Homo sapiens: one gene and its partners. The protein of the gene in region 3 purifies or fractionates together with the protein of the main gene of each other region. This does not show direct contact. Each region holds a gene or a part of one and is shown on either strand. Other genes may lie near its edges.

Region 1 (7,688 bases), on a different chromosome or scaffold from region 3:
GGCCTACACCTGTAATCCCAGCACTGTGAGAGGATGAAGCAGGAGGATCACAGGAATTCGAGACCAGCCTCAGCAACACAGTGAGACCCCGTCTCTATTCCAATACATACATTTTTTAAATTAAAAATTCATTTAAAAAAAAAAAACTCAAGGGATGGATTACAGAAGGGCCCAAGGAAACTTTTCGGGGTCTGAACATGTTCATTGCCTTGATTGTGGTGATGGTTTCATGGGTGTATACATGTCAAAACTCACATATTGCATAATATTAAGTGTGTACAGTTTATTATGTGTCAACTATGCCTCAATAAAGCTGCTTTTAAAAATCTTTTTTTTTTTTTTTTTGAGACGGAGTCTTGCTCTGTTGCCCAGGCTACAGTGCAGTGGCATGATCTCGGCTCACTGCAACCTCTGCCTCTCGGGTTCACGTGATTCTCCTGCCTCAGCGTTCCGAGTAGCTGGGATTACAGGCACGTGCCACCACACCTGGCTAATTTTTGTATTTTTAGTAGAGACAGGGTTTCACCATGCTGGCCAGGCTGGTCTCGAACTCCTGATCTCAAGTGATCCACCCGCCTCGGCCTCCCAAAGTGCTGGGATTACAGGCATGAGCCACCGCGCCCAGTCTAAAAACTCTTTTTAAGTTAAATTCAGTACCTTCCCCCCACCCACAAACTTCTTAGAGCCCCCAATCTAGATTATCACGGGCTCACTCGTTTTCCACACCCAACCGACCCCCGGGTCTTACGAGAGACCCATCTTCCTAAGTATCCCTTGATTGCCTATGCAATGCCACTCTACACCACCAGAGCGCTGCTCTTCACCACACATGGCTCGCTGATTGCTACTCTCCATAGCATCCCTAACTCTGACAGGCTCCCAACTAAGCCAGCCTCCGTGCTGTGAACAGCATGATCTTGCCAAACACTGACATGATCATCCCACACCCCACCTGATAAGTTTCAATAAGAAGATAAAGCTCTAATTTCATAGGAGAATATGTAAGGTTCAAGCTGGCCCCTGCCAGTGGCCACACCACCACCATTTCCCCTTCCCTGTGGAGACACCCTATGTAACCTTCAGTTACACAGACCCAGAGTTCCCCAAAACACCATGCTCGAACCCCATCCATACTTTAAAACCTTGCTCAGGCCGGGTGCAGCGGCTCATGCCTGTAATCCTAGCACTGTGGGAGTCTGAGGCGGGCGGATCGTTTTGAGGTCAGGAGTTCGAAACCAGCCTGGCCAACACGGTGAAACCCCATCTCTACTAAAAATACAAAAAAAATTAGCCGGGCGTGGTGGTGGGCGCCTCTAATCCCAGCTACTTGGGAAGCTGAAGCAGGAGAATCACTTGAACCTGGGAGGCGGAGGTTGCAGTCAGCCAAGATCGCACCACTGCACTCCACCCTGGGGAACAGAGGGAGGCTCCCTCTCAAAAAAGGACAGTTTCTCATTAACACAGACCAACAGTAAAATTTTTTAAGTCACTACTGAATTGAGGGCCTACATTATACTTTCACCTTCTGTAAGCACCAGTGTTACAGTGGCCAGATAGCTTATCATCCAAATCGAGACACTTCTGAAAGTGAAAGGCCCTGCTGTTGATCATTAAACCTGTTCAACAGTGCGAACTGGGACTATGCAGTCACCTTAAGTATAGTGGAAGCCATGATTTTCTTGTATTATTACATGAGAAACAATGAATCTCCTCCACCTGCCACTCTGGAAAGACCTGGGCTAAAGAAATGAACGCCCTCCTCTGTGAACAAACCAGAAATGGGCACATCATCACGCTGACTTGTTAATTTCCAGTGCTAGGAAGTGGCTGCCCCACTTTTGAAGTATTTGGCTCCCAAATCAACTGCTCCAGATATTCCACTCTGACAAGAGGTGCTAGTAAGTGCCACGAAGACCCTCCCTACAGACAGGAATTCCATGTGCGCACACAGACTTCAGGCCTCTTAGGGCAGACCAAATGACAAAATTATAAAAAACCATTTGAATTAGAAAAACATCATTCTGTTTACATGACAAAATGATCTGAAAGTGTCTATACCATTACCTAAATGAGATGGGATTCCTATCATCTGGGCCTTTAACTACCACGCCAGTAGCTCCACCAGATCGAACAGCAAAAACCTGAGAGGGAAAAGCAGCAAGGTTAACAGCCTGAACTCTGAAAGGATCTAAACTCAGAAGCCAACCCGCAAGCGATTATTTCTGTTATACACCACCCTGGGTTCAACTAAAGTAACACGGCACATATCAAGGTACAGATGTTTGGCTGCTCAGGTGAATTTTAAAAACCAAGAGCAGAGAGCGAAAAGGATGCCACCGTGACACCGGGTCGGGTTCCCGAGGCTCCAAGTTCTAACACCGGTTCGCGCATCGGCGCCGCTGATACGCCTGAAGTACAGTCTTTTCCCCCTTTACAAAATTTCAAGGAAAATGAAAATCTCGACGTCTAAACCCTTGACTACGAGTGTAACTAATGACAAACACAACAAAAGAAGCCTAGATAAGACGGGCGCGCCAACAATTGAGACACTGGCCACGGGGCCACTGCATCCGCGCAGCTGGCTCGGGGGTCCAGCCCCGAGGTCACCTGCGAGGACACCTGGCCGCGGCTGAGCCCACCCAACAAGGAAGGAGCGCGCGCCGCCTCCCGCGCTGGGACGGGACGGGACAGGACAGGAGGGGACGCTCGGGCCTGGTCGCGCGGGACCGGCCTTGGCGCGCCCACGACCCCGGCAGGGCCGCGCGGGGGAGGAAGCGCGGGCGCGCCGGACCTGCTTGTTGGCCTCATCGAAGAAGACGCAGTTGACAGGGTTCGCCTTCTCGAACTGCACCGGCCGCTCGCACAGCTCCAGATAGTAGTCCTCCTCGCCCATGGCGGGCGCCGCGCCCGCGGCGGGGGCCCCGGGGGCGGTCGCCAGAGTGGAGCAGGATGCGCGGTGGAGCCCGGCCCGGACTGTAGCGGCGGCTGCGGCTGCGGCTCTGGGCCCGGCGCGGACGCCGCTTCCTGGTGCCACGCCCCCACCCCGCCCACCACGTGACCCGCGGCCCTCTGCGCTTAAACGGGCAGCGTCTGGCTGCGGTGGGGCCCACCGGCCTTAACCACGCCCCGCCCGGCGCTGGAGGCTCCTCCCCTCTCCCCGAGGGCGGTCGGAACGCGGCGGCGTGACCCGGAAGCCCGCGTGGTTCCCCGCGGACCGAGGGCGGCGTAGCCGCCAACCCTACCCTGCTGCGAGTTCCTGTGCCCGGCTCGGTCGCCCCTGCCCCAACCTGTACCCCCGCGTGGGACCGCTCCCGGTCTAGGAAAGGCTCCTCCTTGCTTTCGGGAGGATTTCCCAAGTGCCTCCCGCGCCAGAGTTCCAGCCTCTGGGAGCTTCGTCAGGGAGAAGGGGCTGAAGGCTCACTGAGCAGGTGTAGGGGCGCCAGAGACCGTCTCCAGTCCCCTCAGCGCTTCTGCGGGCTCTTCCGCTGGAGCCAGAAACCGAATTGACAAGAGGCAGATAAACAAAAGAAAAGCATACACACTTTATTAGTTTTTCATGGGGACCTTCAAAAGAGAGTGAGGTCTGAAGAAGTGGCCACAGCAAGATGCTTTTATACTTTTTAGACAAAGAATGATGCATTTGAGAAGAAAGCACAAAAGGCATCTGGCTGGGGCGATACATTTCTAAGAGAGTCACTAGGAGAAATATTGGGGAGGGTGTAAAATTAGTGGAAGGTAAGTGTTACTTGGGAAGTTCATTTATTCAGGTCCATTGCAGCCCCAACTCCCAGTCTCTGGTGATAAGGGCTATTTTCTGACCCGGGTACAGAGAGGGTGCCACTCCCAGAGGAATCTTTACTGCTTATTCCCTGTAGGAAACGACAGGTCATCTAGCCCTTTCTGAAACTACAATTTCTCCGGTGTTTTTAGCTCAAAATAATATACCAATTTTTGGACATATTTTGGGATAGCACATCCTTCACTCCTTGCTAGTAACAGGGAAACCTAATATAGATTGTGGGTCAGCAAGCCTTTTTACTTGATAAGAAACATGAAATTTACCATGTTAGCCCCTCTTTTTTTGTTTGTTTCAGAGACAGAGTGTCTCTGTGCCCAGGCTGGAGAGCAGTGATGCGAACACGGCTCACTGCAGTCTCAACCTCCCATCTCAGCCTCACAAGTAGCTGGGACCACGGGTGCATGCCACCACACCTGGCTCATTTTTTTATTATTATGCTTTGTAGAGACAGCGTTCTCTGTTGCCCAGGCTGGTCTCAGACTCCTGGCCTCAAGTGATTCTCTCGCTGACCGTGCTCAGCCCCCATGTTAACCCTTTATTTTTATTGTTTATTTTATTTTATTTTGAGACGGAATTTCGTTCTTGTTGCCCAGGCTGGAGTGCAATGGCCCTGTCTCGGTTCACTGCAACCTCCACCTCCCGGGTTCAAGCGATTCTCCCGCATCAGCCTCCCAAGTAGCTGGGATTACAGGCACCTGCCACCATGCCCAGCTAATTTTTTTGTGTGTATTTTTAGCAGAGACCGGGTTTCACCATGTTGGCCAGGCTGGTCTCCAACTCCTAACCTCAGGTGATCTGCCCACCTTGGCCTCCCACAGTGATGAGATTACAGGCATGAGCCACCGCGCCCGGCCCCGTGTTAACCCTTTTTGAGGTGTTCAGTAGTATCAGGCATATTCACATTATTGTGAAATACGTTTCCAGAAACTTTTTATCTTGCAAATCTGATTCTGTCCCTAAATTTGACTACTCTAAGTATCTCATATAAGTGGATTTTATAGTATTTGTCCATTAGTGTCTGGCTTCTTTTGCTTAGCAAAATATCCTCAAGGTTCATCCATGTAGCATGTGTCAGGATTTCCTTCCTTCATTAAGGCCGAAAAAGATTCCATTTTATGTATATAGCACATTTTGTTTATCCATTCGTCTGTTGATGGGCATGTGGGTTGTTCCCACCTTTGGCTGTTGTGAATAAAGCTATGCAAATATCTGTTCAATATTCTGTTTTTAATTCTTTTGGGTCTATACCCAAAAGTTGGATTACTGGATCATATGGTAGTTCTATTTCTCAGAGAGCTATTTTTGAGTGGCTTTGATGTCTGAGCCCAGGAGTTTGGTTTGGAGCATGTGAATCCAAGGAGAAATGACATCTAGGCAGATGGATATATTGGTCTGAAACTCATCAGAGGAGTGACAAGACTGGAAATGTAAGACTTCTACACTCAGCCTCACCCACCCAGGCCCATGTCACACATGGAAAAACCGATAACTCCAGAACCCTGCTCTCCAGCCACACAGTGCCATCCCTGCAGCTGGCTTGTTTAGCTGCTCCCTGTGACTCTTCCTCAACATCACCAGTTTGCCCTGTCATTGTTCTGTCCTCTCTACCCAAGTCTATCTGCCCTCTCCTCTCTTCCCTTCCCTCCTCATCAGCTTTGATTTCATTTCTCTGCATTCCAGTTATTTTTTGCCATTACCTTCAACATCCTTGCTGCACTGTTCTTGTCTGGCAGAGCCTCAGTCCTGGATGAACTCAGCCACCTGCTTTCCCAGTACCTACTGCTGGAGGGGTCACACAACAGGACAGAGGGCACTGCGGGAAATTCAAATGGGCCCTCAGCCCTGCCTGGCTGTCCCAGTCATTGTCTCTCCTGTTCTCTGCAAGGATATTTTCAGGCCTTCTTCACACTCCTCAGACTGTCTCGCCCCTATTTCCATGAACATCGAGGACTTCAGATGGAAACTGGGCTTCATACCAGTTGTGCAGCGCACCACGGCTGTCCTTCTAGAAAACGGTCCATCCTGCCCAAGGCCAAACCCTGTTTTTATTTATTTATTTATTTATTTATTTGATGGAGTTTTGCTCTTGTTCCTCTTGTTGCCCAGGCTGGAGTGCAGTGGCACAATCTTGGCTCACTGCAACCTCTACCTCTCGGTTCAAGTGATTCTCCTGCCTCAGCCTCCCGAGTAGCTGGGATTACAGGCATGCGCCACCACACCCGGCTAATTTTGTATTTTCAGTAGAGACAGGGTTTCTCCATGTTGGTCAGGCTGGTCTCGAACTCCCAACCTCAGGTGATCCACCCCCCTTGGCCTCCCAAAGTGCTGAGATTACAGGCATGAGCCACCGCGCCTAGCCCAAACCCTCTTTATTTTTATTTTTTCACAAATACCACAGTGACTTACCAGCACTTCTTTGAATTCCATCTTTCGGCTGGGTGCAGTGGCTCATGCCTGTAATCCTAGCACTTTGGGAAGCTGAGGCAGGTGGATCACCTGAGGTCAAGAGTTCGAGACCAGCCTGGCCAACATGGTGAAACCCCGTCTCTACTAAAAATACAAAAAAATTAGCCGGCTGTGGTGGTGAGTGCTGGTAATCCCAGCTACTTGGGAGGCTGAGGCAGGAGAATCGCTTGAACCCGGGAGTTGCAGGTTGCAGTGAGCCAAGATCGTGCCATTGCACTCCAGCCTGGGCAACAAGTGGAACAAGAGCGAAACTCCATCTCAAAAATAAATAAATACATACATACATACAGGGTTTGGCCTGTTTATATAAACAGGAGGCAGAAGTTGCAATGAGCAGAGATCACATCACTGCACTCCAGCCTGGGTGACAGAGCGAGACTCTGTCTCAAAAAAAAAAAAATTTAAAAAATTTAAAAAATGAATTCCATATTTCACCTTCTCAAAAAAACCTACAGTATTGACCATCCCGTTTCTCTCATATAGGCAACCTCTCCTCACTCCTGCTCCTAGAAGCAGCCTTTATATTTGCTCATCTCTCCCATCATAAAAACAAAACAAAAACAGAACTGAAAACACAGAGGACTTCCCTAAACACACGTCCCTGTCTGGCTATCACTGCCTTCCTCTACTTCACAGTGAACAGGAGTCAGTCTTGACCCATCCCCACTCCGACCCCTCATGCCCAAGCAGGCACAGGCCATCAGCTTAGGTACAAGTTTAGAAAAAGAGACTTCCAAGAAAACCCAAGCTACTCCACAGAAGTGCATATTTCGAACATGACCCCACAGGAATGTCTGCCAAGGACAGGGCAGCAGTGCAGTGTGTGCGCGTGTGTGCGCGTGTGTGTATGCGTGCCTGTGTGCGCATGCATCACACTTAAAAAAGACTATGGTCTTTTTATGACACCAGGCATCTCGTCCTTCCCAGAGAATTCAGTTTGGTTGACTCTGGCAGATGTTTTTGTCCTAAGAGCCAGGCTTGATTGTTGTGCAGTTCGCCTTGGGTCTGCAAGCAGCATTGAGGTCTGCCTGCATGTTATGGGTTGAAGTGTGTCCCCCCAGAATTCAGATGTTGAGGTACTAACCCTTAGTATTTCAAAATGCATCTGTATTTGGAGATAAGGCCTTTAAATAGGCCGTTAAGGTAAAATGATGGACCCTAATCCAGTATGACTGGTGTGTTTATAAGAGAAGATTAGGACCTAGACACACAGACTGAGGGGCCGCCCATGTGAAGACACAGCAAGAAGGCGCCACCTACAGGCCAAGAAGAGCTGCCTCAGAGGAAGCAACGCTGCTGGCACCTTGATCTAGGACTTCTAGCCTCCAAAACTGTGAGAAAATAAATGTTTTCAACCTCAGTCTGTGGTATTTTGTTGTGGCAACCCAAGCAGACTAATACACTGGCCATGGGCAAGACGCCC
Region 2 (5,870 bases), on a different chromosome or scaffold from region 3:
AGAGCACTGGCAGCATCCTGGACGACATCGGCAGCATGTTCGACGACCTGGCCGACCAGCTGGATGCCATGCTGGAGTGAACGCCGCCTGGCCGGGCCCTCCCGCGCCGCCCGGGCCCTCCCCGCACACTGACCTATACCTCAGGATGGGCGCGTCTGGGCGCGGCGCGAGCGGCCGGGCAGGGCCCTGCAGAAGCACAACTCCGGCCCCTGGACCCGGGCCGGGGCGCCCACCGGGGACCGCCTGGCCGGGGGCTCCAAGGGCTCTAGGCAGACCCTGCGCCCGCGGGTCCTCCCCACCTGCTGCTCCCCGTGCAATACCTGCTGGGCCTCCTGCCCGCGCGGGAGGGGAGGGCGCCCCGGGACCAGGGATGGGGCAGCGCACAGGCCCGGGCCCAGCACAGAACTGCCCATCGGGACGCCCGGCCAGCCGCTCGGGCGCAGCACAAGGGACAGGGGACCAAGGTCAGGGCCCCCCTGCCCCACCGCACCCCCAGAATATAAGCTATCAAGAGTATTAATTTATTGGGAATGAGCTGAGGCGGATTTCCCCAGAGAAACAAAAAGGTATAACTTTAACAAATATATATTTAAAGAAAGAAATATTATTGATTCTATAGAAAACCATTTACCAACTGAAAGGACACGAAGTCTAGCTCCGGACAAAAGCTGTTAGAGGCCCAGGCTGTCTGCCTGCGGTCCTTCCTCCGGCCAGAGTGGAGGCCCCAGGCTGCTAGCACAGGTGGAAGGCTGGGGCCCGGGGGCGGGTGCTCTGCCGGGGGCTCCTCCGTGCTTCTCTCCTAAGTTCTCTGCGCCCCAAGAACTCGAGGTTGTGCCTTGCTCTCGGCGGCCGTGTCCTCCTCCTGGCGTGGCTGCGTCCCAGGGCGCGGGTGGGTTTGGTGAATGTGGGTGTGTCAGCGTGGCAGCCACGTGGAAGCAGGGCATGTAGCAGGCCAGGCCACGGGCTTGCAGCTCCTCTGAGGGTGTGCCTGGCCCCCTCTCCAGGGGCTGTGCAGGCAGCCCATCCACCCCAGTGGAGTTCCCACGGACGCTTCTGCTCATGGTCCAAGGCTGTGTTGTGTGGTCATTCTCGCCCTCCCTTTTCCTCTCTCCTCCTGCCCCCTCCAAGAAGTACTGACTGGTCTCCTCTATCGTGTTTGCTGATCCACAGTGTTGGGCACAACTTTGACGTTTCTTAAAAAAAAAATTTAAAAAATGCCGAAAACCAGCGATTGTGGTGTGGGGCGGGTGGAGGCGGCTGGCGGAGGTGGCGTCCCGGCGTGCAGGGCCCCTTCCTGCTGTCTCACCCCGTGTTTCCCTGCGAGTGGACGTGCCCAGCTGTCCCCCCAGGCCTCTCCTCAGAGGGCGGCACAGGCTGGGCTCCAGCAGGTGGGCAGGGGAGGTCTGGGCAAGGCGCTGCCGTCGGCTGTCAATAAACAGCAGGAAACAGAGGTGCCTGGCTCACTTTTTGGGGGCACATGTGTTGGGGGAGATGGGACTGGAGGCCAGCAGCTTGGGTGTGACGAGTTGCCTCCTAGCAGGGAGGGGAGGCCCCGGAGTGGGCCGAAGTCCTGGGGTCCACCAAAGGAAACTGCCCCATGCCCCCCCACTCACAGCAGCCAGTGCCTGTGCACACCAACCTCAAGGCCACACACAGCCCCCTTGTCCCGAGGAGCTGTCCCCACTCACAGCCACAGTCTGTGGAGCATTTATTTCAACCAGGAGGTAACCAAATCTACATACAGTCTAAAAACGGTAGAAAAGGTGAGTAAAAAGGCCCTCGCTCCATCTAGGGTGGGGATGGAGGGTGGGGATGGAGGGTGGGCCGGGGCAAGCGTCGTACCTGGCACCCAGAGAGGGGCTGGGCAGCAAGGACAGTGCCGAGTAGAGGGAGGCTCGCCGAGCATGGGACGGGGAGGGCACTGCCCGGCTGCCAGAGCCTGTCCACCTATGCCCACGGGGCAGGCAGAAACCCCGAGACCACCCCATGTGGCCAGCCTGGCTCAGAAAGGTCCAGGGCTGGTTCAGGGGAAACCACAGCCTGGCCTGGATCCTGTTAGCAAGTCCAAACCTGCAGAGAAAGGGCTGCTTCACCAGGATGTCCTGCGGCCGGCTGCCCTGCCCCAGCCACACCTGCCACACGTACCTGCCCTCCACCACTTTGTGCTGGGGCTGCCAGCTCCTCGTCCCCACCCCCGCTCCATCCTGTGCAGCCCCTTTGAATGGCCTGAGCCACGGGCACTGACCTTCACAGTGCTATCCACAGCCCCTGAGAAGAGTCGGCCCCGGGACACAGCCAGCGCGGTGACACTGCCCTGGTGACGCAGCAGGGTCTGCGTGCAGATCATGTTGTCCATACTCCAGACCTGGGGGCACATGGGACGTGAGGGCCCGCCGGAGCTCAGCTGCCAGCCCTCTGAGCCTCCTGCCACCGCTGGGCCAGCACGCACCCTGAGGGACCGGTCGTAGGATGCACTGAAGACTTTGGTCTGGTCTGGCGTCGAGATGACCGCCAGGGCATACACGGTGCCCACGTGGCCCGTGAGGGTCCGCACCTGCTCCTTGGACTCAATGTCCCACACCTGGGAGGGGTGGGCACAGGCAGGTCAAAGACACTGAGCAAGGCGGGGGAGACGGGGCCACAGTCTGGCCTTGCACCCAGATGCCCAGGCCTTACGTGGATGAGGTTCTCGTAGGTGCCACAGACAATGTGGTGATTTGTCACAGCAATGGAGTAGACGCTGCCACCAGACGTCTGCAGGACGTGGATGCAGTCAAGGGTTCGGATGTCCCAGATCTATGAGTAATCGTGGGCCAGTTGGTCCCAGGCCAGGTGCTTCACCCCCAGGGCCCCCGCACCCCCAGGGCTTCAGCACTGCTGGGCAGCCCACCCACCCAGCCAGGGGATGTGCGAAGGTAGGAACAGGGCAGATGGAGCCCCAGGTGCTGGCCTGGGAAGTGCTGGTAGGAGGCAAGGCCCTGTGGCCACCAGGTGTGCCCAAGCGCACCTTGATTGTCTGGTAGGAGCCGCTGTACAGGTAGCTCTGGGCAGCCACCAGGGCCCGCACCCAGTGGTTGAGGCCTGTGAGCTCCTTCTTCAACTTCAGCTCAGTGCCCACGATGTCCCAGACCTGCAGGGATTGCTGCAACTGTGGGCTGGGCGGGCAAGGGACGCCTCAGTGACACACACGTAGGCACAGCCTCCACCCGTACCTTGATGGCCTTCAGGGAGCCGCTGAAGAGCACGTTGTGTGAGGAGACCAGCGTGCACACCGGGTTGTCATGGGCCCGGATGGTGTTCACCTTCTGCAGGTTCTGGATGTCCCACACCTGATTGGGGAAGGACCGGCAGCCTCAGGGCACCAAGCCCTGCCACCTGGAGTCTGGAGCCCAGACGGGGAGAAACACGTCCCTGGGGCACCTACAGACTGGGGCGGGCCTGGGCCGCCTCCTGCCCACCCGCCTGTAGGCCCCACTCACAATGATGGTGCAGTCTGCAGAGCCGCTGTAGAGTTTGCACCTGGGGAAGCAGAGACAATGTGTCAAGGTGGGAGAAGCTGTGTCCATGCTGACACCGCCCTGGCAGGGCCCGAGGTCCATGCCAGCCATCAGGAACCAGCAGCATGGCCCAGGGCCAAGGCCACTGCTGTGTCCTTAAGCGTCAGCCTATTTTCCAGTCTCCACATGGGAACCTTGGAAGGGGCGGGCCAGCCCCTGATGCCTGCCTGGAAAGCATTTGACAGCGAGCTGGGAGGTAATTACCCACCCGTCAGCCCTGAGTCAGTCCCAGGGCCGGCTGCTGGCAGTCAAGCTGCCGCCTCCTGAAAGCGAGCATCTCTCACGCACACGCTTACTTGCTCGCTCCCACAAAGCCTCACGATAGGAGACAGGAGGCAGGCGGGCCACCTGGAGGCAAGAAAGTGGCCAAGGTAGTTGCTCCGTAGTCTCTATGCCCTGGGCTTTGGCTGCAGGCAGGGGAGAGCTGAGCTCCTGCCTTCACCCCCTAAGGTCCCCCCTATCTTCTGGTTGCGCAAGGTGCACCTGGGCCAGGACAAGGTTCTGCTGGGAGGCTGGCTGCGCCAGGTATTGGGAACACACAACTTTGGAGATGGTGTAGGCCACACAAGGGCCCACACACTGCTACCCAGGAAACAGTGCTGCTCCGGGTGGAGGGTGCCCTATAGGTGGGGCACACACATAGCTACACAGGCTCGAGCTCATGGCTCACGGCCCACGGGGTGGCAGCGCCACGTCTCCTGTCCTGGGAATCACTGATCACACATGTGCCTGGACTCACCCCTGGATGCAGAGAGCCAGCACGATGCCATCATGGCCCTCCAGTGTCTTCTGACACTTGTAGGTGGTACATGTGTCCCACACCTGCAGAGACCAGGGCCACAGTGGGTCCCAGCAAGGTCAGCCCAGTGTCAAGGGGCAGCATGACAGGAATGAGTGAGGGAGCCCCGCCCATGGGAGAGGGCCCTGCCCAGAAGGTCCCACCCATAGGCAGGCTGGCAGTGCCAGGCATGTGGCAGTGCCCAGCCCAGCCAGGCTGCAGAGACTGAGGTAGGACCCTGCCCACCTTGATGGTCTTGTCAGAGGAGCCACTGAAGAGCAGGTCACCCATGGAGTAGACGCAGAGACACCACACAGGGCCCTGGTGGCCCACAAAGGTCCCTTTGCACTTGAAGATCTGCTGAGGGTCGTAGGCTGCAGAGATGGGAGCAGTGGGTGAAGGCCCAGTTGGGGCCCGGGGGGGAGGGTGGGCGGGAGCCACGGCGGGTCCATACTCACAGCCTAGGATGCCCATGTTCAGCCGCGCGTTGATGTGGGACAGCTCGTCCTGCAGGGCCAAGGGCAGGGCAGAGGGCAGGTGGGCAGGGCTGCTGTGGGGCCAGTGCAGCCTCTCTGCCCCTGCTGCCCTGGGCCAGGGGTGGGCAGGGGTGACAGCAGCCCCTGCCACACACAAGACCCCTGATCTTGACTAGTGTAGGCAAGGCCAGGGGAGGCCTCCCTGCCGGGGCCGCCGGCCTCCCCGGGTCTCACAACCCAGCCCCTCCAGCCCCGCCCGCTCACATTTAACATGGATGCGTCCCGCCGGAACTCCATGAGGTCCTCGCTGAGCTTGCTCTGGTTTTCGTCCAGGACGTCTGAGTAGCAGGAGGAGAGGGGGTGTCACTGGTGCCCGGAGCAGTGGCCAGGCCCCTGCCTGCCCCGGTGCCCACCCTCACCAAACTTGAGCTCCAGGCTCTTCTCTAGCTGGTCGATCTTCTCCGAGAGCTTTCCCAGCATGGAGCGCAGGAAGGCGATCTCCTGGTCCTTCTGGGCCAGAGCCACGTGCATCTCGTGGAAGCGGTCATCCGTCTGCTGCAGAAACTCCTTCAGGCCCTCGAAGCGGCAAGTCTCCAGGTGGGTCTCGTAAGTGTCCTGGTTCCCGATGAACGTGCACCTGCGGGGACAGGACAGCTGCCTGCCTGGCGGGTCCCTGCCGGTGCCTCCCCATCCCCAAGAATCCCCCTCAAATGCTCCAGCCCTGTGGCCGCTGCACCCCAGGTCCAGCTGCCCCCACCCACACCTGCCGTCCTGCCCCTCCTCCCCATCCAGCTACCCCCAGTCTGCTTCACAAGTGAGATCCCATCACGTCACCCCCGCAGAGCTCTTCAAGGGGTCCTCCCTTCCTGAGGATAAAACCCACGCTGCTTGGCAGCCTCCCTGCCCACCTCCCTGCCCTGAAGAACTGGGCTCCTGCCTCTCCTCCCACCCCCACCTCCCTCTCCAAAGCTCTCAACCCCAGCATTTGCTCAAATCCGCCCATGCTGGGCCGGCTGCGGGAGCGTCCACGCCCGCCTTCCTGGACGCCCTCGGCTCCCC
Region 3 (7,898 bases):
AAAGGGGCCCGGGGCCAAGGGACTGTCGCTTTCCAGGTCCTCGCAGGTTACCCGCGAGGAGGCCCCTGGCAGCTCATAGCCCTGCGAGAAGTCCACCTCCGGGCCCAGCGGGAGGCTCTGCAGCTCTCCAGGCTGCAGCGGGGAGGGGTAGTCCCCGGCCTCAGGGCTCGTGTGGCCCTGGTAAGTTTGGAGAGGCTGCAGGTCGAGGCGCGGCGGGGAGGCGTGCGGCGCTTCCGTGTGCTGGCTGCCCAGAGAGCCGCAGACAGCGGTTAGCATTGCCGGGATCCGGGGTGGGGTGAGGGCAGGGACGGTCAGGGGCACCTCAGACGGGACCTAAAGGAGGCGAAGAAGCAGAAAAGTAAGGGAAATAACCAGCTCACTTTCCCTCCTAACCCAGGTCCTCCTCTCTGGCCCCAGGTGTAAAAGAAGGATGCACCTCTGAACGAGGACTAGAGATGAGTTTAGAGAATTCGGGAGTGCGAGGAAGGGTCCAAGATGTGAGGTTCTCATCCAAGCACAGAGGATGATGGAGGTCTACCTTCCTCTGGGTGATCCCTGCCGTATGACCCAGCTCATCCCTAGAGTTGGGCCACTCCCAGGATGGTAGGTCAGATACACCTACAGCACAGTGCTAGAACCATCCCCACCCCAGCTGCCCAGGCCAACACAAGGGGCAGTGGCATTTTCCCCCTGCAGACCTGCTGTCAGCCCAAATGGAGGATCTAGACACATCTCAGCTTCCCCAGTTTAACTCAGGATACAGATGGGAGAGGGGATGGTCTATTTCTGAAACCCAAAGCTTCAGGTGACCTGCCCCTCATAAAGCCTCAAACGGGTCCTGAGTCTTTGAAAGAGTTCTCATGCCATTCCCAAAGCATGTTCAGTAATGAAAAGCATTTCACCGTCTACGCTGCTCCCCGCCTGGCCTGGTCACATCGGGCCCACTAAACCGACTCACATGCCCCCACCCCCTTCCCTCAAGCAGGGACTTCACCTCCCTGGGGAGCAGCTTTCTGGCCACCAGATACCCCTGGAATCTGGGAGATACCCCCACCAGAGAAAACCAAATTTCCATCCCTCTCTTGACTCATACCAGTGCCAGGCAACTCTCTGACTGCTACCCATCTTCCTCTCCATGCTAGGGGAGGCCCAGATAGAAAGTTGGGAGGGAATGGCTTCCCCAGAGAAGAGCTTGACAGCAAGCTCTGGAAGATACAATTGCACCCCTTTAAGTGATACAAGGTCAGAGTGCAGGAAGAGGAGGGCAACAAGAGAAGTCATAACCACAGAACCTAAGAGCAAGAATTGCCCAAAAAGATGACATAAGCAAGTGCATCCTAGGCATGGATCATTTTTCAGAAGCTCCCCACCACCACCAGAAGATTCTTATATGCAGCAAATGTTGAGAACCACTGCTCCAGGCCAATCTTCTTATTTTGAAGAGAAGGAAGCAGACTGAATGACTTGGCACAGTGACTTGGACAAGGATGTTCATTTATTCATTCAATAAACCAGGTCTCCTAACTCCTGGACTCTCAGTCTGTTACTTTCTGTAAACCAATCTTTCTGTAGACCCTTAGAACGCTAAAGACCCCCAACGCTTTCTCAACCACATATCTGTGGCTTGAAGTTCACTCTTTTCTCACCACCTCTCCCTAAGGCCTGGAAGCCCTGGTGCCTCAGCTGGGCAGGTTTGTGTGCCTGGGTCTTCTCTACTGGTGGGGGAGGAGACCAGTGACTTAGGGCAGGATTGTTTCCTTCCTACAGCAGGGCTTAGCTGACCCTACCATCTCCTGCCTCTGGGACCAGGGAGGTGGCACTGATAGCCTGGGAGAGGGAGGGAGAGGAGGACGGGGGCACCTACTCAGGCTCCGGCTGCCTCACCACAAGAGGAAAACAGGGTGAAGTTGCAGGAAAGGAGCCCCAGGCCGGGGTGGGGCAGCACAGAAGGGGCTGAGCGGGAGCTGTGAAGCCAGGGACCCTAACAGCTTTTGGTGCCTGGGAACTGCCCCAGGGGCTGGAGGATGGGAAGGCTAGGATAATCTGGGCTCCAGAGTGGCTTCTCCTGGCAGAGAGCTGGAGAGCCCAGGCCTGGGATGCAATGGCCTGCTACCAAGATTTCAGAAACCCAAAGCGGGGTGATTCTCAGGTTCTAAGACCAGTCCCACTGGGTGGAAAACTGCCCTGGAGCTGGCTCAGTCTAGCAGAAGATGCAAGACTAAGACCCAGGAGAATAGAGGAGGGGGCAGGTCTTGGGGGTGATATGGAGCCACCCTTAGGTGGCAACCCTTAGGTTGCCTCTATGGTCCTTGACCCACCTGCCCCAGAGCTGAGAGGAAAGAAGGGAACAGGATTGAGTGCCAAGTATGTGTCCGGTTCACTTCCAGGCCTAGAAAGAGTTCAGGAAAGGAGAGAGCACAGCGTACATCGCAGGCTTCTCGCTCCCCGAAGTGGGAAGGCAAGTCGGTGCACCCTTATGCCCCATTCGGCTCTGCCTCTCTGGATCACCGGCTAGTACTCCCAGTTCTCAATGTCCCGGTCCTCTGGTTGTCCCAGTCGCTCCAGTTGCCCCGGTTTCCAGCCTCCTCGGTCCCTCCAGTCTCTCCCGTCCGCCCAGTTTTCCCTCCATCGGGGTTCTAACCTCTCAGATCCTTTAGGACCACCCCGCTCCCAAGGCCATAGGAGGCTGGGGCGCGTTCGGAGTGCGTTTTTTCGAGACAATCTCCGTAGCGCTCACCCCTGGCCACCCCGACCCGCGCTCCTACCTCGAGGCTGCGGCGGGCTCCGGGCACGGCTGGCTGGTGCGCTACTGACGGTCGCTCATAGGCCCTGTGCGCCGGCGAGCTCTCCAGCGGTAAGGGGCAGGAGCCCAGGGCGAGCCAGACCCGGCGGCTGGCGGCAGGCGGCAGGCGGCGGAGGTGAGCGCTGGCGAGAGGGCGGAGGACGGAGGGCGGGCAGGAGCCAGCGAGCGAACAAGGCCAGCTCCGCCCGTGACTCACCCGCGCTCTCTGCCTTCATCCTCTCCCCAGCGCTGCTTTTTCCCCCGGACTCGCGGCCCCGCCCACCTCACCTGCGGCCGCCTTTAACCCTTGAGGGCTCGGCTGGACCGGAGCCCAGCCAGGGCCGCGAGGAGGGGGTGGGCGGGAGTGGGGGAGGAAAGATAACTAGGGCGTGCGCCGCCCGCTCCCTCGCTCCTCCCTGGTCCCCTCCACTCCCAGGGAGAGGGGCCCGGGTGGGGTGATTCCCAGGTTCTAAGACCCGCCCCGCCGGGTGGAAAACTGCCCTGGAGCTAGCTCGGTCTAGCAGAGGACGCAGGACTAAGACCCAGGGGGAATGGATAAGGGGGCAGGTCCTGGGGGTGAGACAGAGCCACCCTTAGGCAGCAACCCTTAGGTTGCCTCGATGGCCCTTGACCCTCTCTGAACGGACAGCCCTGCCCCGGAACTGGGAGGAAAGAAGGAAACAAGATTGAGCGCCAAGTATGTTTCCAGTTCGCCTCTAGGCCTAGGCCGTGTGAAATTTGTCTTGGCTGCCCTCCTTCGCCATTCCCCCGACCCCCGACCCCCGTCCCCTGCCCTGCCTCACCCCCCGCACCCCGCGCCGCTTCTCTCCACCACCACCCTTCCCCGTCCTTTTTTCCCTCTCCCTTCCGGGGTATCCCTCTCTGACCTTTCTGGGTGACCACCTCCTCTCCTCCCCTCTCCCAGCCTCTGCCCACCACCGGTCTCTGCTTCCCCCCTACTCTGGTCCCAGGTCCCAGCAGCTGTCACTCTGCCCCTCCCCTTAGGTAGCAACCCCAGTGCCTAAGAAATCCACCTCTCAAATTCGCCTCTCCTCGCCCTCCTGTCCTTCGGGAAATGCTCAGCCTACGCACACCCTCGCCCCCGAGCACCCGGTTCTGAAGAATGGGCAGGCGCCTGAATGGCCCTGGGAAGGGACACTTCTGGAAGGAATTGAGCTATCCCTTGCCACCATTCCTTTCTAATTCTCACCAGAATAACTAAACCCAAGGTTCTTAACTTTGGGGAGGGGTCTTGGATTCCTTTGAGAAAAATTCACATGCCCAGTGCAATATTCTGGTAAAATTTCAGCGCGCTCGCGGAGCTCACAAAAACTTCCCTCAAGATCTGGATGGGTCGACATTTCCGAGACCCGCAAAGCACCGGTGGGTAGGGAAGTTCCGTCCTCCACCCACGCATTCTTCTGCCTGGCCGCTGAGGTGGCCCCATGCTTCACTCCCATGCCGCAGTGTTGATCTCTCCATGTGACCCCTTTTTTCACAGGGGAATGCAGATTAATTTCCCTATTTCTTTCATTTTTCAGATTCGTCTCCTCTGTGCGCTTTGCCGTCGGCTTTTTAAAATTTCGTTTTCCTCTTTACAGTCGATTTCATACTTGAATTTAGGCTGATTTAATCTCGCCTCTACAGCCCCTACTCCCCCCCGCCATTGGTTTACCTGTCCTGCATGCCCGTTTGGGACACACTCAAACTGTAACTCAAAAATAGCTAAACCGAGTGCATAAGCGGGGTGAAAATCAATCCATGTGTGTATGCGTATGTGCATGGTACCCCTCAGACACGCACACGTTCTTATCCAGAATCGACGTCGGATTCATCTGTGCATCTCCCTCTTTTCTAAGGCTCATTTCCCTCATCCGGACAACCTGGGTACACATTGGTAGGGTCTCCTGGGGGCTTAAAGGAATTGATATGCCTAAAAATGCTTAGCCCAAGGGGCCCCTGGTAAGCGCCGGGTAAATGGAAGATATCCTTGTTATAATTATTAAATAAGTCAGTTCCAGGTAAATATTGGTTGGATTAAGGTGTATGCACAAAGACCTGTGGACTAGAAGTTGACGGATTTAAATTCTAGCCCCAGCCCTGCACTTGCTAAACTGACCCTGGCAGGTCAGGTGCCTCTAAGCCTCAGTTTCTTCCTTGGTGAAATGCTGTAAAAGCAGCCACCAAGCTAGAGAAGTGACAGGTATTTGGAAGCCGGAGATGCCGCCTGACATCGGGGGATTGAGATTTCTGATCAGTCGGGGTTTGCTTTTTGCCTTCTTGTTACTTGGGGCTCTGGATGTGGATTCACAGGAACTGCTCTGGATCTTTGTGGCCATGGCTAATTTGACAATCAATCCTCTTCATCAACGCAGCTTTGTCTCCATCCATTCAGCCTACAAATCCTGGCCAGTTGGGTTTGTATCCTAGTTCACAGCTACCTCTGGAATGGAGTAGACACTCATCAGGTCCAAAACAGAGCCCCCAGTGGGGGACTCTGGTTCCTGATTTGACCTCTGGGCATTCCTGCCTCCTCCTCCAAGCTGCCTGCTGGTGCTGCATCTACTGTTCCTAAGGTGCTAAAGCCTGTGCAGGGGTCTGACTCTGGGTAGGGGACCAAGTTCCCCTCCCATTTATAGGCATCAGATTGCCTTCTCTTCCTGGCCCCTTCTGCCTTTTCCCTGGAAAGCAACAGGGATTCAGCCCGAGGATGGTAGACACTCCCTGCTACTTTCACTCTAGGCCCCCTTTAGCCCTGCCCCGATCCAACCAGACCTGTAGCCATCTGGAATTCCACCAGCAAAGACCCTCCATCTGCCTGCAGCTCATCAGCAGGAAATTCAACAACAATGCAGTTGTCTCTGGAAACTCCCAGCCATTCTGATTTCCTGCTCTGCCTAGGTTTCTGCTGCTCACTCAGGGTACTGGCACTATCTTTCCTCCAGTCCCCCTCTACTTGCAGTCCTCTGCTTCCAGCCCTTTTGGTTTCCCACTTGCTAAATGTTTTCCCACCGAATGACGGCGCATGGTCTGATGTTAACTTAATGAGCAAGGTCACCACAGCCCATTGCCCATATACTTATTGCTACTCAAAATTGAACAACACAGCCCATCACATCTCCTGTATAAACTGAGATCTGTCTTGGACTTGGGCCATTTCTGCTGCTCTTCCTCATTCTCTCAAATAAATAGTCAGATTTCCCCTGCAAGTGTCCAACCCCCATTCCTGCCACCCCTCTTCTTCTCAAGCTTCATCTATAGTCAGTGATCCACTTTGTACCTGGAGAAATCTCATTAGTCTGCGTGTTTATCACAAACGGCATTTATTTACTGAGCACCTACTATGTTCCAGATGCTTTACACAAATATCTCTAATTCTCATGGGCATGCAGCAAAGTAATTATTATTATTCCCGTTGTACAGATGAGGAAGCCAAAGATCAAAGAAGTTAAATGATCTACCCAAGATTACAGAGTTGTTAAAAGACAGAAGAAGAAACTGAGTTCAGATCTCTCAGGTTCCAAAGCCTGTATTCTGCCTACTAGTCCATCTGGCCTCAATATGGCAGAATTGATGACCCTGGAAGTCTGGCTCCCCTAGAGCCTGAAGGTGGAGGAAACAGCATTCTTAAATGAATCCCTAGATCAAAGCCATCTCCTATCTTGAGTCTAATGGACAAACTGATCCCATCTTGAATTGCTGAGACAAGTCAGACTCTACACTTGTGATCCCTTCCAAACTTCAACTGTCCTGTAGAGATTGCACTATGAGAATATCAAAGCTGGTCTAGCCCCAAATTGTCTCGTCCAAGCCCTCGTTTTACTGGTAGGGAAACCAAACCCCAAAACAGGGACGTTAGTAGCAAGTTAGAAGCAGAGCTGGGACCAGACCAGAGTCTGGTCCTGTTTTCCTCTTCTCACTCACTCCTCTCCTCCATTTCCCACTCCCACCTTCGGGCTGCACTTCCAAGCCTGCAAGCTGATGACCCTGGATGCCAACATATTCCTTATTTCCCCTCCTCTCCCCACCATACTCTCCTGATTCTTAGAAAACCAGATAGAGCCTAAAGCTGGGGTCAAATAGTTTTCTTTCATTCATCCTTTATTTCATTCAACAAACACTTATCGAGGGTCTACTTAAGGCCAAGCACAATGCTGGACACTAATTTTATTATAAATTTCAAAATCCCTAGCTACCACCATCGCTTTTCAGTCTAGAAGATGAACCCACCTGAGGATAGTGCATCTGTATGTCGGTGTGTGTATATCTACAAATGTGTGTACATATTATGCCTGTGTGTACCTGTGGGCTTGAGTGTAGGGTGTCTTCTCTCCTCCACCGTAAATGCAGTTCCCCATAGGATGTGGATAGTGGTTTCTCCCTTACTATCCTTGCAGGTGTTCTGTCATTCAGGGCAGTGAGTGTGTGTGCCCTGTATTTCTATTAACATTTATTTGCCCTTCCTTTCTCTCGAAATAAAGTTCCCAGCTATGAATCCCTACCCCACTTCTCCACTGGGCTGACTACCCCAGCCCAGTCAAAAGACCTCCAAGGGATCCCTTTAGTTCTCCATGCAAACCCCACCAAGATCTCCCTCTTATCTCCCCCTTCCCAATTCAGAGAGAACCAGACCCTTCTCTATGACCCCCACTTTAGAGTGGAGACCTGATCCTCTTTGTGGAGGTCCCCTGTACTGGACAGGGAACAGCCTCTCTTACCAGTCCATGGAGCCCAGAGCTGGCGGCGGCAGTGAGGGCCAAGTGGCGGTGATAAAAGAGCCAGGCTTTATAAAGGAGGTGACAGGCAGTGCCAAAGGGGGAGGTGAAGGAGGGAGCAGGGATGCTGCCAAGTCCTCACGGCCTCAGAAGCTTTTAGGATAATCCAGGAAACAGTGGCCCCCAGCTCTCCTAGGGGAGTGGTAGGAGGTGAGATCTGAGTCCGTGAGGTCTGCCAGGAAAGGAGGATTTCAGCTGGGAGTGGGGGCTGGGGGCACTTCCTTCCTTCCGCAGAGTTGGCTGGGCAGTGGGAGAGGGACAAAGTGGTTCTTGCAGGATGGAGGAAATGACAGCATTGCTAGGGTGGAGAGCTGGGATAGCTGGAACTCTCCAAATTCCAT
Region 4 (7,022 bases), on a different chromosome or scaffold from region 3:
ACTTACCCCTATCTCTAGGCTCCAGGGTTGTTTAAAGAGAAGTCTATAAATGACTGCAAAGTGACTCTGTATTTGTCTTAGAGAAGAAAATAATGAGGCCTTTGAAACAGGTAGTGAGGTTTATGCCTACATTTATTCAGTAAGTATTGAACTCCCTTCTCTTTTCTCAGCCTTATAGTAGGAATGTGTCCCCATTGATGAAAAAGTGTATCTATGTGCTCAAGGAACATACAGAATGCAGATAATTTTATGATTTAAAAGTTTCAGTGAGGCAGGGCACAGTGGATCACACCTGTAATTTCAGCATTCTGGGAGGCTAAGGTGGGAGGATTGCTTGAGCCCAGGAATTCAGGACCAGTCTGGGCAATATAGCAAGACCCCATCTCTACAAAAAAATTTTATAAAAGTTAGCCAGGTATCATGGTGCATGCCTGTAGTCCCAGCTACCTGGGAGGCTGAGGTGGGAGGATCGCTCGCACCTTGGAGGTCGAGGCTGCAGTGAACTGTGATTGCACCACTGCACTCTACCCTGGGCAACAGCGAGATTCCATCTCAAAAAAAAAAAAAAAGGATAAAAAGTTTGGTGATTCCATTTATTAACAGAACACTGAAAAATAAAAAAACAGAAATGTGGGTGATATTATGTATGTAAATTGAAACTTAAGGGTAAGTTGAAATTTTTGAAAGATGCCTAGAGCAATTAGGTGGTTTCATAAAACAGCATCACTTAACAGTATTTTTTGTAACTTACATTTTTAACTCAAGTTTTCTCACGTAAATATTCTCTGTTGGAAAGAACTGGGAGATTTAATGAGCTGAATTAATAATCTAAAGGAAAAAAAGAACTTGTTATACTGAAAAAGTGAGCATAGGAAACTGATTTTTTTTTCTGCAATCTTTTACCTCACTAGCTTTTTAATGGTACATTTCTGAAAGCCATGGAAGACGGAGGCGTCAAGCTTCTGAAAGAAAGATTAGAGAAATTCTTCCATCGGGTAAGTATTTTGAATTTCATTTATAACTTTACTAAGCATTCATCAGGTTTTTAGAGAAATATAGACAGACAAGTTTGTTTCTTATCTACAAAAAACCCAGAACTTGAAAGTGGCAAAGAGCCTGAGACAGACCGTCGCAAAACTGGAGCAGCGAGGAAACGCATGAGGCGTGTGCTCTGGAACCTTCCCTCCAGCTGTGGTGTAAGGCAGAGCTTCCTGCGTTTGCCCGGGGCTCTTAAAGGGTCCTGGAGACATCGTTTGGCCTCCCTGTGTTTTACCTGCATCTGTCCTTCTGGGCTTACTCAGCAGCCATCTTTTGTGTGATAGATTAGTTGATAAGGAAAACTTAATTATTGGAGTTGCACAATCTCAGGGATTGGTTCTGTTCACTAAACGGGCGTAAACTGTCTTGATGTAGGTAAGAGTTATTGGCCTTGACAGACTTTGTCAGATTAGCGATTGGGGAGATTTGTTCCAAGTGCTGTCCTCTTTCGTTGTAATTGAATTTTGCATGTTTCACCCTACCTTGTCAAGCTCAGTTTATCTTTTTTTTTAAAAGGAAACAAAGAGACAGGGTCTTGTCTTGGCTGTTTTGCCCAGGCTGGTTTCAAGCGATCTTCCCTCCTTGGCCTCCCAAAGTGCTGGGGTTAAAGGCGTGAGCCAACTCGCCTAGCCTAGTTTATCTTGAAGCAACAATTCTCAATTTATTTTCTTCTGAAAATACCTTCTGTATCTATTTTTGAATTCGACTTTCTAAAACAGCTTTCATAGCTATTTTTGAATTTTTTTGTTTCTCTGAATTACTTTTCTTTGTTGTTTTGTCATTTTAATGACCACAATTATCCACTCGCATATTATCTCCTGGTTTCTGTTCTTGTCCTCATTTCTCTCTTACCCGTCAACATATGGATAGAACTGTTGTCCTGAGTACATATCATTTAGACATGATTTTAGTATAAGATGGCACTCTTGGCTGGGTGTGGTGGCTTACGCCTGTAATCCCAGCACTTTGGGAGGCCGAGGCGGGCAGATCTTGAGGTCATGAGTTCGAGACCAGCCTGGCCAACATGGTGAAACCTCGTCTCTACTAAAAAATACCAAAAAACTAGCTGGGCGTGGTGGCGCACGCCTGTAATCCCAGCTATTCTGGAGGCTGAGGCAGGAGAATCGCTTGAACCCCAGAGGCAGAGGTTGCAGTGAGCCGAGATCGCACCGCTGCACTCCAGCCTGGGTGACAGACCAAGACTCCATCTCGGGGGGGAAATAAAGATGGCACTCTCTGTAGTATTAATGGATAGATCCCTCATTAGGTTAGTCTAATTTGAAGAGCATTAAGGCAGGGAGTTAATTTTTTTTTTTTTTTTTGAGACAGAGTCTTACTCTTGTCACCCAGGCTAGAGTGCAATGGTGTGATCTTGGCTCACTGCAACCTTAGTCTCCCAAGTTCAAGTGATTCTCCTGTCTCAGCCTCCTGAATAGTTGGGATTACAGGCTACCACGCCCGGCTAATGTTGTAATTTTATTAGAGACGGGGTTTTGCCATGTTGGCGAGGCTGGTCTCAAACTCCTGACCTCAAGTGATGTGCCCGCCTTGGCCTCCCAAAGGGCTGGGATTACAGGCGCGAGCCGCTGTGCCTGGCCAGGAATTAAATACTTGAAAGTGCTAGCTGGGCACAGTGGCTCATGCCTGTATTCCCAGCGCTTTGGGATGCCTAGACACGAGAATCACGGAGGCCAGAAGTTCAAGACCAGCCTAGGCAACATAGCAAGACTCTGTCTATACCAAAAAAAAAAAAAAATTTTTGGCCAGGCGTGGTGGCTCACACCTCTAATCCCAGCACTTTGGGAGGCTGAGGCAGGCAGATCACGAGTCAGGAGATTGAGACCATCCTGGCTAACATGGTGAAACCCTGTCTCTACTAAAAATGGAAAAAAATAGCTGGGCATGGTGGCAGGCGCCTGTAGTCCCAGCTGCTCAGGAGGCTGAGGCAGGAGAATGGTGTGAACCTGGAAGGCGGAGCTTGCAGTAAGCTGAGATCGCACCACTGCACTCCAGCCTGGATGACAGAGCAAGACTCTGTCACAAAAAAATAAATTTAAAGCAGTAAAACACAATACTGAATAAACATTAAGTAGATAGTTTGAACTTTGTATCTTGGAATTGGTACTGAGTTGACACTCAGTCACCCATGTCTTCACCACGGCCTCATTGTTGTGCTGTTTGCTAGTATGTAATTGTACCATAAATGTGAGTCTGACATAAGATTATTTTCAGTTATCAAGGAGCATTATATTCAGTGTACTATTAGTAAATTTTATGCCTTATTTTTTTTCCACAGTATTTGCAAACGCTACATTTGCAGTCATGTGACCTACTTGACATTTTTGGTGGAATCAGCTTCTTCCCGTTGGATAAAATGACTTATTTGAAAATCCAGTCCTTTATTAATAGAATGGAGGAAAGCCTGAATATAGTCAAATACACTGCTTTTCTCTATAACGATCAGCTCATCTGGTAGGTACACCCCGAGGCATGGTATTAAAAGAAGAAATTAAGATAATAAAAACAGCAGTGACTGGATTGATGACAGGTTGTCAAACAGGAACTTGCAGCGGGGAGGATGGGTAGGAAGCATCTTCATAGATATTGTCAAAATAAAGCAGTGATTATTTAAAGCAGAACTAGGGTGATTTGGGTTCAAATTTCCAAGCAGAGGAGTTTAAAACTGGCTGCATGAAAGATGAAAGGCTGGGCACGGTGGCTCACACCTGTAATCTTAGCACTTTGGGAGGCCAAGGCAGGTGAATCACGAGGTCAGGAGTTGGAGACCAGCCTGGTCAACATAGTGAAACCCTGTCTCTACTAAAAATACAAAAATTAGCTGGGCGTGGTGGTGCATGCCTGTAATCCCAGCTACTCAGGAGGCTGAGGCAGGAGAATCACTTGAACCCGGGAGGCGGAGGTTGCAGTGAGCCGAGATGGCACCACTGTACCCCAGCCTGGCAACAGAGAGAGACTCTGTCTCCAAAAAAAAAAAAAGAATGTTCCTATCAAGTAAGATTTAGGAATCCTGTTTTTATTTTGGAGTTTTTTTTTCTGAAATGATAAATGTTAAAAGCAGAATTTTTATACCTTTTTTTTTTTTTTTTTTTTTTTCTTATAGAGATGGGGTTTACTGTGTTGCCCAGGCTGGTCTCAAACTCCTGGCCTCAAGCGATCCACCCGCCTCAGCCTCCCAAAGTGCTGGGATTACAGGCACGAGCCACTGCACCTACTTTCTTTTAAAGAAACTAGATTTTTTTTAATCCAAGAAATCCAAAGTGTTATATAAACCAGGAAATTACCTGCTATCGTGAAACTAGGTTTGTGTCCTGCAGTAGGAACAACGTGGGCACAAGACTGCCCAGCATATATGACCCCTGAGAGCTGGGTGGCAACCGAGGTTGTGCACATTTGGCCTAGAGTAGGTGGACAGAAGTCATCAAGGCTTGCAGCTGTTCCGGGACCCTCAAGTTTTATGTTCCCATTGACTAGAGCCCTCTTTCTTTCTTTCTTTCTTTCTTTCTTGTCTTTCTTTCTTTCTTGTCTTTCTTTCTTTCTTTCTTTCTTTCTGTCTGTCTTTCTTTCTGTCTTTCTTTCTTTCTTGTCTTTCTTTCTTTCTTGTCTTTCTTTCTTTCTTTCTTTCTGTCTGTCTTTCTTTCTGTCTTTCTTTCTGTCTTTCTTTCTTTCTTTCTAACGGAGTCTCACTCTGTTGCCAGGCTGGAGTACAGTGGCGCGATCTTGGCTCACTGCAACTTCCCCTTCCTGGGTTCAAGCGATTCTCCTGCCTCAGCCTCCCAGGTAGCTGGGATTACAGGCATATGCCACCATGCCCGGCTAATTTTTGTATTTTCAGTACAGACAGGGTTTTACCATGTTGGCCAGGCTGGTCCTAAACTCCTGACCTCAGGTGATTCGCCTGCATTGGCCTCCCAAAGTGCCGCGATTACAGGTGTGAGCCACCGCACCTGGCCTAGCCCCGTTTCTTAATTAGGGGTGTGGCCATATGGTACTACTATAAGGTAAGTTCAGCTAATAGAAAAGGCAAAACTAGTTCCCCTAAAATTTACCTTCCCTGCCAAAATCTTGTAGCTCCATTTTAAGAAGAGAAACAAGTTACTGTAAAGAAATTTGAATCCAGTTAATAAACAACTTGGTGGGTTTCCACATGAACTTTATCTCCTAGGAAGACAACACAAATTTCAGGTGAAACCCATCTACTTTTTTTTTTGTTTTTGAAATGGAGTCGCTTTCTGTTGCCCAGGCTGGAGTGCAGTGGCATGATCTTGGCTTGCTGCAACCCCTGCCTCCTGGGTTCAAGCAATTCTCCTGCCTCAGCCTCCCGAGTAGCTGGGATTACAGGTGAGTACCACAACACCCAGCTAATTTTTGTAGAGACGGGGTTTTACCATGTTGGCCAGGCTGGTCTCGAACTCCTGACCTCAAAGGATCCGCCCACCTCGGCCTCCCAGTGCTGGGATTACAGGTGTGAGCCACTGTGCCCGGCCTCCACCTACTTTCTAATTTGACAAATAGTTTATCAGGCAACCTTACGCTGTACTGACTCAGCTATAGTTGCTTTCTGTGATATGTACACAATGTTACTAAAGTGAAATTCTGCTGTGAAATGTAGGAGATGGGAGGCTAGTTGTGCTTCTGTAGCATCAGGTCTGCAGAGGGATGGCTCCTCCACAGATGGAAATGACAGGACGTGCTTGCAAATCACACGCAGCCACGGCGATAGGGAGATGTCGTGTGACAAGCCAGAATCCAGCAGTAGTGGCCCATGGCCTTGCTTCCACCAAAAAGAGAAGGGTAGCTGAGATTCTGATCTCTGGGACAGAACACAAGCCCCGCCATGGGTGCAAACTCCTGAGAGTGAGGAAGAGGGAAGGCTTAGAGCAGAGGGTCTTCCAGGAGCTCATTCTGGGAGACCCTGGAGCCAGAGTGACCAGCAGCGTTGGCCCTTTGAAGCCTGGAGTCACAGGACAATCTGGCGCCCAGCTCTGGGGATCCTGTTGGCATCGTCATCTTGGAATAGCATCTGAGGGGTTGAGCAGGGCACAGCTCTGGTGGCTGCACAGAACTGCTCGGTTGTCACCTCCAGTGTGCTCGTGGGGAAAGGTCAGTCCCAGGAAGTAGCAACAAAAATAACCTTCAAGAAAAACAGCCTCTTACTCCAGGCGCCAACGCTTACACCTGTCATCCCAGCACTTTGGGAGGCTGAGGCAGGAGGATCACTTGAGACCAGGAGTTCAAGACCAGCCTGGGCAGCATAGTGAGACTGTATCTCTACAAAAAATGCAAAAAAAAAATTAGCTGGGCATTGTGGTGTGCACTTAGAGTCCCAACTACAGAGACTACAGAGGTTGAGGCTGGAGAATCACTTGAGCCTGGAAGTTTGAGGTTGCAGTGAGCTATGATAGCACCACTGTACTCCAGCCTGGGTGACAGAGCAAGACCCTGTCTAAGAAAAAGAAAAACAGCACGTTTTGATGGAATTGCTTATTCCAAAGCTGTTATATTAAATACCAAAAAGACTTTTAAGCCAGGCGTGGTGCACATACCTATAGTCCCAGCTACTGGGGAGGAGGAGGCAGAAGGATCGCTTGAGCCAGGAGTTACTTGGAGACCAGCCTGGACAATATAATGAGGCTCTGTCTCTACCAAAAAGTGGAAAAAAAACATTTGTCACAAGCAGAGTATATATTACCCTTATGTATTTACTTAGTATATTGCTTTGATTTTTTTTTTTTGAGACTGAGTCTCATTTGCTTGGTTGCCCAGGCTAGAGTGCAGTGGTGTGATCTCAGCTCACTTCAGCCTGCGCCTCCCAGGTTCAAGCGATTCTCATGCCTCAGTCTCCCAAGTAGCTGGGATTAGAGGTGTGTGCTATCAGGCCTAGCAAATTTTTATATTTTTTAGTAGAGACGGTGTTTTGCCATGTTGGCCAGGCTGGTGTTGAATCCCTGACCTTAGGTGATCTG

The links.
Region 1: the proteins of SP6 (region 3) and RMC1 purify together in Homo sapiens (affinity purification with mass spectrometry; 3 studies listed by BioGRID and IntAct, with this or other methods). This does not show direct contact.
Region 2: the proteins of SP6 (region 3) and TRAF7 purify together in Homo sapiens (affinity purification with mass spectrometry; 3 studies listed by BioGRID and IntAct, with this or other methods). This does not show direct contact.
Region 4: the proteins of SP6 (region 3) and CCZ1B purify together in Homo sapiens (co-immunoprecipitation; 2 studies listed by IntAct). This does not show direct contact.

The regions. Positions count from the first base shown.
Region 1 is NC_000018.10:23,498,824-23,506,511, reverse strand, and holds the start of RMC1 (regulator of MON1-CCZ1 complex), read right to left. Parts: upstream 3,002-7,688; 5' UTR 2,894-3,001; coding exon 2,792-2,893; intron 2,142-2,791; coding exon 2,065-2,141; intron 329-2,064; exon of another isoform or gene 1-328. UniProt on the Homo sapiens protein: Component of the CCZ1-MON1 RAB7A guanine exchange factor (GEF). Acts as a positive regulator of CCZ1-MON1A/B function necessary for endosomal/autophagic flux and efficient RAB7A localization.
Region 2 is NC_000016.10:2,172,760-2,178,629, reverse strand, and holds the end of TRAF7 (E3 ubiquitin-protein ligase TRAF7), read right to left. Parts: intron 5,449-5,870; coding exon 5,231-5,448; intron 5,150-5,230; coding exon 5,076-5,149; intron 4,843-5,075; coding exon 4,794-4,842; intron 4,710-4,793; coding exon 4,582-4,709; intron 4,380-4,581; coding exon 4,297-4,379; intron 3,520-4,296; coding exon 3,480-3,519; intron 3,330-3,479; coding exon 3,213-3,329; intron 3,131-3,212; coding exon 3,008-3,130; intron 2,797-3,007; coding exon 2,677-2,796; intron 2,582-2,676; coding exon 2,450-2,581; intron 2,366-2,449; coding exon 2,246-2,365; intron 2,071-2,245; coding exon 2,056-2,070; 3' UTR 501-2,055; downstream 1-500. Other genes in the region: CASKIN1 (caskin-1), read left to right, coding at 1-80. UniProt on the Homo sapiens protein: E3 ubiquitin and SUMO-protein ligase that plays a role in different biological processes such as innate immunity, inflammation or apoptosis. Potentiates MAP3K3-mediated activation of JUN/AP1 and DDIT3 transcriptional regulators.
Region 3 is NC_000017.11:47,848,154-47,856,051, forward strand, and holds the start of SP6 (transcription factor Sp6), read right to left. Parts: upstream 3,011-7,898; 5' UTR 2,766-3,010; intron 334-2,765; 5' UTR 277-333; coding exon 1-276. UniProt on the Homo sapiens protein: Promotes cell proliferation. Plays a role in tooth germ growth. Plays a role in the control of enamel mineralization. Binds the AMBN promoter.
Region 4 is NC_000007.14:6,816,254-6,823,275, reverse strand, and holds part of CCZ1B (vacuolar fusion protein CCZ1 homolog B), read left to right. Parts: intron 1-911; coding exon 912-995; intron 996-3,334; coding exon 3,335-3,510; intron 3,511-7,022.